2 linked regions of the Homo sapiens genome follow. The protein of the gene in region 1 interacts with the protein of each later gene in a pairwise test. Each region holds a gene or a part of one and is shown on either strand. Other genes may lie near its edges.

Region 1 (3,747 bases):
CGTGGTGGCGCACGCTTGTAATCCCAGCTACTCGGGAGGCTGAGTCAGAAGAATCGCTTGAACCCGGGAGGCAGAGGTTGCAGTGAGCCAAGATCGCGCCACTGCACTCCAGCCTGGGCAACAGAATGAGACTCTGTCTCAAAAAAAAAAAAAAAAAAAAGAAAAAGAAAAAAAGTTGGCCCTAGTTAATACTGTCAGTTCAGCCAAATATGAGTTTATGGGTGTGTGCGTGCACACACAGACACACACACTCTCACACATTTTCACGATTTATAGCCCCATGCACCCACTACTTTCGAAGCTTTGACTTTTAGAGAACCCTGTTCGTTAAGCTCACTTTCTCCTCGAGATTTTCAGCAGAGTAAGTGAGAGGACATTATCAGTTATCCTTGTTTGTAATTCAGTGCAATCTCTGTGGCCAGCTTTGCTTCATTAGCTCTTGAGACCAGATGATGAAATAAATGGAGGGCATAGGTCAACAGCCCTAGGTGTAGAAGGGTAAAGGGGGTGGTGTGCCTTTTATGAACGTTAGAAACCTCTCCAAGGTCCTGAGTTGGTTTAGCCGCTGTTACAGTTGCTCTTTTAAGTCTTTGAAGTGTCAAATGTGGAATAACTTTTAAACTTTCAGCTCTGAAGTGTTTTGATGAGAAGCATCTTGATTATCCCCCGTATAAGATTATACTTTATCTCTGTTATATCGCCAGCTCCCAGTACAATGTGTGGCTTAGAGTAGCGAAGTAGTAAAGCTCGCTTTGAAGAAGGTACTAAAAACTATGATTATTGTCACTACAGACCCAACATTCTCAGAGGGGGCTGGAGGATGGGCTAGCTTCGGAATCATGCCTTTGTTGCCACAAGTGGAGTTCATTAAGTGGCATATGTTTGCCTGTGTGTGTGCATGTGTGAAGAGAAACATTGTGTGTTATCAATAGTGTGAAGGCAACCAGCAGGAGCATCCTGAGAGGGACAAGTAAGGTGGGGGCTAGAGAGGACAGGTATATTTATTTTTTTAAATGGGGGTTATCCTGCCTTTACCTTCTAGGAGGATAATGTATGATGTACTAAAATCCCTGCCCTAGTATTTGTCACTAAGTATCGAAATGGGCGTGGTTTGGCATATAAGACACCTGCTCTTCGTGAGCCCTGCAAAGAGATACTCTTGGAGTCCTACCCTTACCCTGATTCCTCAAGTGCTCTGGAGGGTCCCCCAGTTCCAGCATCCTTTTTGAGAATCCTGCCGCCCGCCAGCAATGCTGCTCCGTGGACTTGAGAGGGCCTGCTGAGCATGTGTGAAGAGCGCTGCGCATGCTCCGTGGAGTGGGCAGGTTTACCGAGGCGCTAGCAGGGGCTTTTACTACTGTTCAGTCGCCTCCCCAGCCCAGCACGCCCCCCTCCCCTCTATCCCACCACCCACCACGCGGTCCCCCGCATCCACCCCGCCCCTCTATCCCGCCCCCTTCACCCCAAGCTGGGGAATCTCCATTGACGTTTGGGTGACGCCGCTGTGCCGCCGCCGTGGGGGGGTCCAGGCGCCGCACAGGTAACGCCGCCGCTGCCGCCATATTGACAGAGCAGGGAGCGGGGAGGGGACCCGAGGAAGTGGGGTGTTGGGGGAGTCACCACCGAGCGGCTGTCGTTGTGGTGGCAGTGGTGAGCGCGAGCCGAGCGGCAGCTCTTGGAGAGGCAGCACAGAGTTGTCTTCTCTATGGGAATCACCGGGCGGCGGCGGCGGCGACCCCCAGCTCCCAGCCTCTGAGAGACCCGGCGGCGAGGGCAGCGCTCGCTGAAGGCGGGGCTGGGGGTCGCGGCGGCGGCGGCGGCGGCGGCGGCGGCGGCGGGCCAGTTCAATAGACAGGATGCGCGGCCGCGCCAGCGGTAGGCGGCAGCTCCTGTTTGAGTGCTCCTGAAGGGGAGATGCTACCATTCGCTCCTCAGGACGAGCCCTGGGACCGAGAAATGGAAGTGTTCAGCGGCGGCGGCGCGAGCAGCGGCGAGGTTAGTGTGGTGGCCAAGACGGGCTGGAGCCAACCCCCGCCTCCTTCCCCTCAAGACCTTGGCTGGGGACGGAGAGAGGAGAGGCGTAGGGCCGGGAAGCGGGCTCCCGGGCAAGCCCCCTTGATGCTGCCTCCACTGCCCTTTCGCTGGGGAGCGGGCGGGGATGAGACGGCGGGCTCGGGCTTGCGGAGTGAGTGCAGCCTGGGCCCGGGCTCGGCCTTGGGCGGAGCGCCTGCCTGGCGGGCCACGCCAGAGTTGTTGTGACTAAGTTTCTTCACTTTCCGACCCGAAGGGGAACTGGGGGACTGGCGGGGTGCTGTGCCTGACTCCGCGCGTCCCTTTTTCTCCGCCGCGCCTAGTTTGCTGGCTGGGAACATTTTGGGGGACAGCTGCGGACTCCAGCTCGCTGTTGAACCCCGGACGCTTTACGAACCCAGTGCAACAAACACACCAAGGTGACTAAGTAACTCTGGGGACATTTGCACATAGGCACGAGTGTTCCCTGGTAACAGCTTTCTCGTTTCTCTGTGGCTTGTTATGGTTCCTTGTAATGACCCATGTCGAGATACACTGGCGACCTATCTCCAGTCGCCAGGTTTCAGGTGATGTTCTACTGCTTCCTCTCAGGTCCCCTTGATTCTACTGCACTCTTGCTCCACCCCTTCTCCTTTCCACAACCGCTGTCCCTGCCCCGTTGGTCTGTAAAAGAAGACGCAAAGTAAACCCCAGCCCTTATAAATAAGTCGAATCTTTGGTAAGACTTAGCGAGGTTCAACCAAAATACTTTGGTTCACCTCTCTTCCCACTCTTCTTACTCTGAAACTGTTCTGGTTGGGCTTTGGTCAGCTGTGCAGTGAGAACTTAGATGTACACAGGTGCTTTGTTTTTATTGTTGTTATAAAAGCGGGCAGCATTTAAACACAAAAACGTGTCTTTTGTGATAGAAAGTTGGATCCTTTTCTGATAACTTAATCGACTGCGTACTACTCCAGTAGAGGCCACCATACACCTCCTAAAAATAGTTGGTGAAATTGATTCACAGTAGGATATTTTGAGGTAAGACTCTCAATCCTCGACATCTAAAGGGTGCAACTTTGTCTTCAAGTACTTGCTCCATTTAAAAAAAATACACATTTGGCTGTTGTATGATTACCTTGTTTTTTTTTCTTTAAATTTTTTTGTTATTTATCAACTAAACTGGGGTTAAGATTACATGCTAGAATAACATGTGGTAAGGAATATAGTGGAAATAAATTCAGAAGTACCCTAAATCTGAACCCTCTATACTTACAGGAAATATTTTACTAGTAAACCAAGCAATTCCAATATACGTTTTAATATTTTACATCTCGTAAGAACAAGATAAATGAATAGGCGTTCCTTTCTTGTTGAAATGTGGGAATGCTAACTGTTTGCACAATTGTCTAGCAAGTCTATTGAAGGGGAGAGGAACTTTGTTATATTCATGTATGTAACTTACTGAACTTATAGGCATTTAGTTTATAAAAACAGTTAAATGCTTTGATATAAGGATGGGATGGGAGGTGGGAATCCTTTTGCATGCCTACTATTTTATTATTTCTGTTAACTTTGAATGTAGTATGTTTTAAATTGTAATTACCACATATGGTTTTTTTATTGTTTGCAGTATGTTTTAGGTATTGTAGAGATTTAACAATGGGTCTCTCTACCTCAGCAATTTGGAAAAATACTCGAGTGGAAATTGTTAATCCCTATGAAGTAAAACGAAAG
Region 2 (3,647 bases), on another chromosome or scaffold:
CAGCTTCCTAGCCTGGGTGGGAGGTTCTGGGTGGGTGGGTTTCGTTGTATTTACACCATGTGTGGAGGCTTCCCTCACTTCCACAGCATCATTCAATGAGAGTAAAGAGGGGCTGGAAATACGCTGGTTGCTGGTAAGACCCTGTAACACTCTCTAGCTGCACCGTATGATGTTCAGCAGCATCCGTGGCCTCTACCCACCAGTAGACAAGATGAGTAGACACAAACTCCACTGTCCATCCTGAGCCTGTTGGCAGGGATCTGTGTGGCGTTTATCCCTGTCCCCTTTGTCTGAGAAGCCAGGACTCCCAGCTCATCCCTTGCCACATTTGGCCTGACCCATCCCCTTGTGAGACCTCACCTCCCCTTCTCCTCACCTCCTGCACATCCCTCCACTGAGCCTTGTGGGACTCAGGGCTCAGCAGACCCGCCAGGTCCTGAGTGTTCCCTGCTCGGACTGAGCTCCAGGGGACTGCAGCCCTCTGAGTGCTTGTCATCCTCTTCCCTGCCTCTGTCTTGAGCCCAGGCCCACTGGGACAGGGTCCTCACCCCTCAGATTGTGCCTCTGCCAGCCTCAATCCCTCTCTAGAGACCTTGCCTTTGGGTCCCAGGCCTTGTCTTTTTGCTACTTCTGCAGACCTTCCCTCTCTTCTCAACACTCTTCCTGCCCTCAGTCTTGGCCATGGCAGCCTCCTTGTTGATTGTCCTGTGCCCCCCCAACCCATCCCACAGCCATCCGTGACTGTGACGACAGTGACTTTACCATACCCACCATCTCCATCTCCAGCACACCACTCCCTGGCCGCCTCCTGCCGTCCCTTCAATTCCGTCTGGTGTCCTGATTCCAGCAGTTTTCCAGTCCTTCAAGACCTGCAAGCCATCGACCCTGCTGCCTTTTCACTGCCCTGACTCATCCTCATTTCCCTCCATGCCCACCATTGTGGTCCCCCCTTACACACACCCTCAGCACTCTTGCCCCTGTTTTGTTCATTGTATCCACTTAGTGAAATCCATCGGTGTTCTGCACCTGCAGCCAAGCAGCTGCACGTGGCTGCAGAGAACCAGGTAAGCTGGCTGCTGGTGTCACGTGACATTCATGACCAGCGACTTCAGTGGGCGCTCTGCCACACAGTCACACCGTGTCTCCTTAGCCCAGGGGCCAGCAAACTGTGGCTGAGGGCCAAACCTAGCTCATCTGTTTCTGTATGGTGCACAGCTGAGAACAGTTTTATATTTTAACCCGTTTTTTAAAAGAGAAACGCACCACTCACACAGCCCTCTCCACGCCATCTGCCTGCACCAGTGCCCCCTTCTCTGCCTTCACTTCTGTGACTGCTAAACTGTCAACCCTCCAGCCAAAGCCCCACTTCGATCTGGCACCAGATCCCACCTCATGCCATCTTCTCAAGGGCAATACAAGCAATCCTGCCTTGACCTCTACCCCGGCAGCCACTGCCCGCTTGTCTGTTCCCCTTTGTGGCAGAGCCCTTGGGGACATCTGCGCTTGCTGTCTCCTGCACCTTCCCCCCCACTCTGTTACCCCTTCCACCAAAACCTCTCCAACCTCGGTTACCAGGGCCCTCCGTGGTCCTGAATGGTCTGTCTTCTTACTTGGCCTTGTCCCCTCTACTCTGCCACGTAGGCCCGTCATCTCCTGCCAGCCCCTCTCCTCCTGCCCTGATCCCCCAGTCTTGCCTCAGCCCAGCAGAGTAATCCCTTTTAGACCCAAGTCCTGGCTTTCCATCTGACCCGCACCGTCAGCTCACCACCTCCACTTTTCTCTCACTCTGCCCAGCTGCAGAGTGCTGTTCCCTGGTGCTGTTCCCTCCGCCCTGTGCCAGGGCCTTCGCAGTGCCCTCTACTGGGAATCCTCCTCAGGCAGGTCCCACCTGCAGGCCTTTCGTGTCATCGGCACTGCAGGCCCTCCCCACCCAGGACTCCAGGCCTACTTTCCTGCTTTGGGTCTTCCGTGTTAGACAGTGTCACATAATATATATGTTTCCTATTTATAGATTCATCGTATGTCAGGTCTCCTCCATTAGAATGTCAATTTCAAAAGTATAAAAATTTTTACCTGTTTAATCATTTTAGGAACCTAGAGTATTGCCTAGTACAGAGTAGGAATTCAATAACTATTTGCTGAATGTATGCTGTTTCAAAATTTAAAACGTGTGTGTGTGTGTGTGTGTGTGTGTGTGTGTGTGTGTGTGAAATAATGTATTTCTGATAGCATTTAAATTCCTTTTTAGGTCTCCCAGGCCTCCCTAGGAATTTTCTGTTTATTCTTTCTATCCACATTTTAAAACGTCTGCTGTGTACTTTGGTAGCTGTAAACAATATATAATACGGTTTTTTGTGTTCTGAAAAATTACATAGATGTCATTATATTTATCACTCATTATTCTGTATTTCAGACTTATCCATGTTGATACATGTAGATCAAGTTCATTCCTTTTAACAGATGCTTAATATTCCAGAAGCAACTATATTGTAACTTATTTTCCATTCCTCCACTGATTGGCACTTAAGCTTTTTCTGATTGTTCACTCTCACAAGCAATACTGTAGTGAGCGTTCTTGCGCCTGTTTTTTTGTGGCCCTGTGGGGATGCTGCTCCAGGGAGTAGACCCAGCGGTGGCCTCACCACGTCGTAGGCTTGATTTCATCTCTTCCGTTACTGTATGGCCCTCCCCAGGGGTACCCAGTGCCAGCGGGTGCTCCTAGAACTTGCTTCCTAACGTCTGCCCAGTTTCCATAATTACATTTTTGCCGACCTGATGGGGGTGAGATGGCCTCTCGTTTCAACTTGTATTTTCCCCCTTAAGTTGCACGCCCTTTTTATACGATTATTTGGCTGCTTCTCCAGTGAGTTGTCTTCTGTTTTTCTATTGAGATATTCTTCATTTTCTTCTTGATTCAGGGCTTCTTTGTATGTGTTCTAGATACAAATCCTTTGTCTATTATTTGTGTTACAAACATTTTCTCCGTGTCGGTGGCAGGTCTTTAACGTTGTAGTTCTTGTATGGAAGTTTTCACTGTTGAAAGAGTCAAACATGTCAGTCTTTTCCTTTATGATCTGTGCTTTTTCTGTAGTGAGATATCCTTGCTTACCTCACTCAAGGTCAGAAAGATACTCTTCTCTATTTTTTTTATAAATTTTTAAAAGTTTTGCTTTTCAAATTTAAGTCTTTAATTTATCTAGAATTAAAATTTGTGTAGCTTGCAAGGGAGGGTTTCAGTTTTTTCTCCCACAACGATGGTCTCATTTTCCAACAAAGTTTGCTGAATGTGTTAGCTTTTCTCCACTGATTTGTGATGCGATTCTGTCCTGAGCTGGTTTCTGCATGTGCACAAGTCTGTTTCTGGGTGCTTGCTTCTGTGTCATTGGTCTCTTTGTCAGTCTCTGCACCAACAGCTTGCTCTTTTAGCTTCATAATAAGCCTTGATATCTAGTAGACTAATCCTTCTCTGCTTGTTCTTCAAAAAACTGTCTTGGCTATTCTTGGATATTTGTTCTTTTATATGAATTTTGGGATCTGTATGTCAAGTTCCTAAGAAAATCCTGTTGGAAATTTGATTGGAATTGCATTGACTTTACAGTCTAATTTCTGGAGAATTGCTCTCATGACAACATTAGCCTTTCTACTCA

What was found. The genes of interacting proteins can lie anywhere in the genome.
Region 2: the proteins of RPS6KA6 (region 1) and ZNF746 interact in a two-hybrid assay, tested with the Homo sapiens proteins (one large-scale study listed by BioGRID and IntAct).

The regions. Positions count from the first base shown.
Region 1 is NC_000023.11:84,186,067-84,189,813, reverse strand, and holds the start of RPS6KA6 (ribosomal protein S6 kinase alpha-6), read left to right. Parts: upstream 1-1,614; 5' UTR 1,615-1,914; coding exon 1,915-1,995; intron 1,996-2,354; exon of another isoform or gene 2,355-2,450; intron 2,451-2,466; exon of another isoform or gene 2,467-3,621; coding exon of another isoform or gene 3,622-3,747. UniProt on the Homo sapiens protein: Constitutively active serine/threonine-protein kinase that exhibits growth-factor-independent kinase activity and that may participate in p53/TP53-dependent cell growth arrest signaling and play an inhibitory role during embryogenesis.
Region 2 is NC_000007.14:149,487,796-149,491,442, reverse strand, and holds part of ZNF746 (zinc finger protein 746), read left to right. Parts: intron 1-3,647.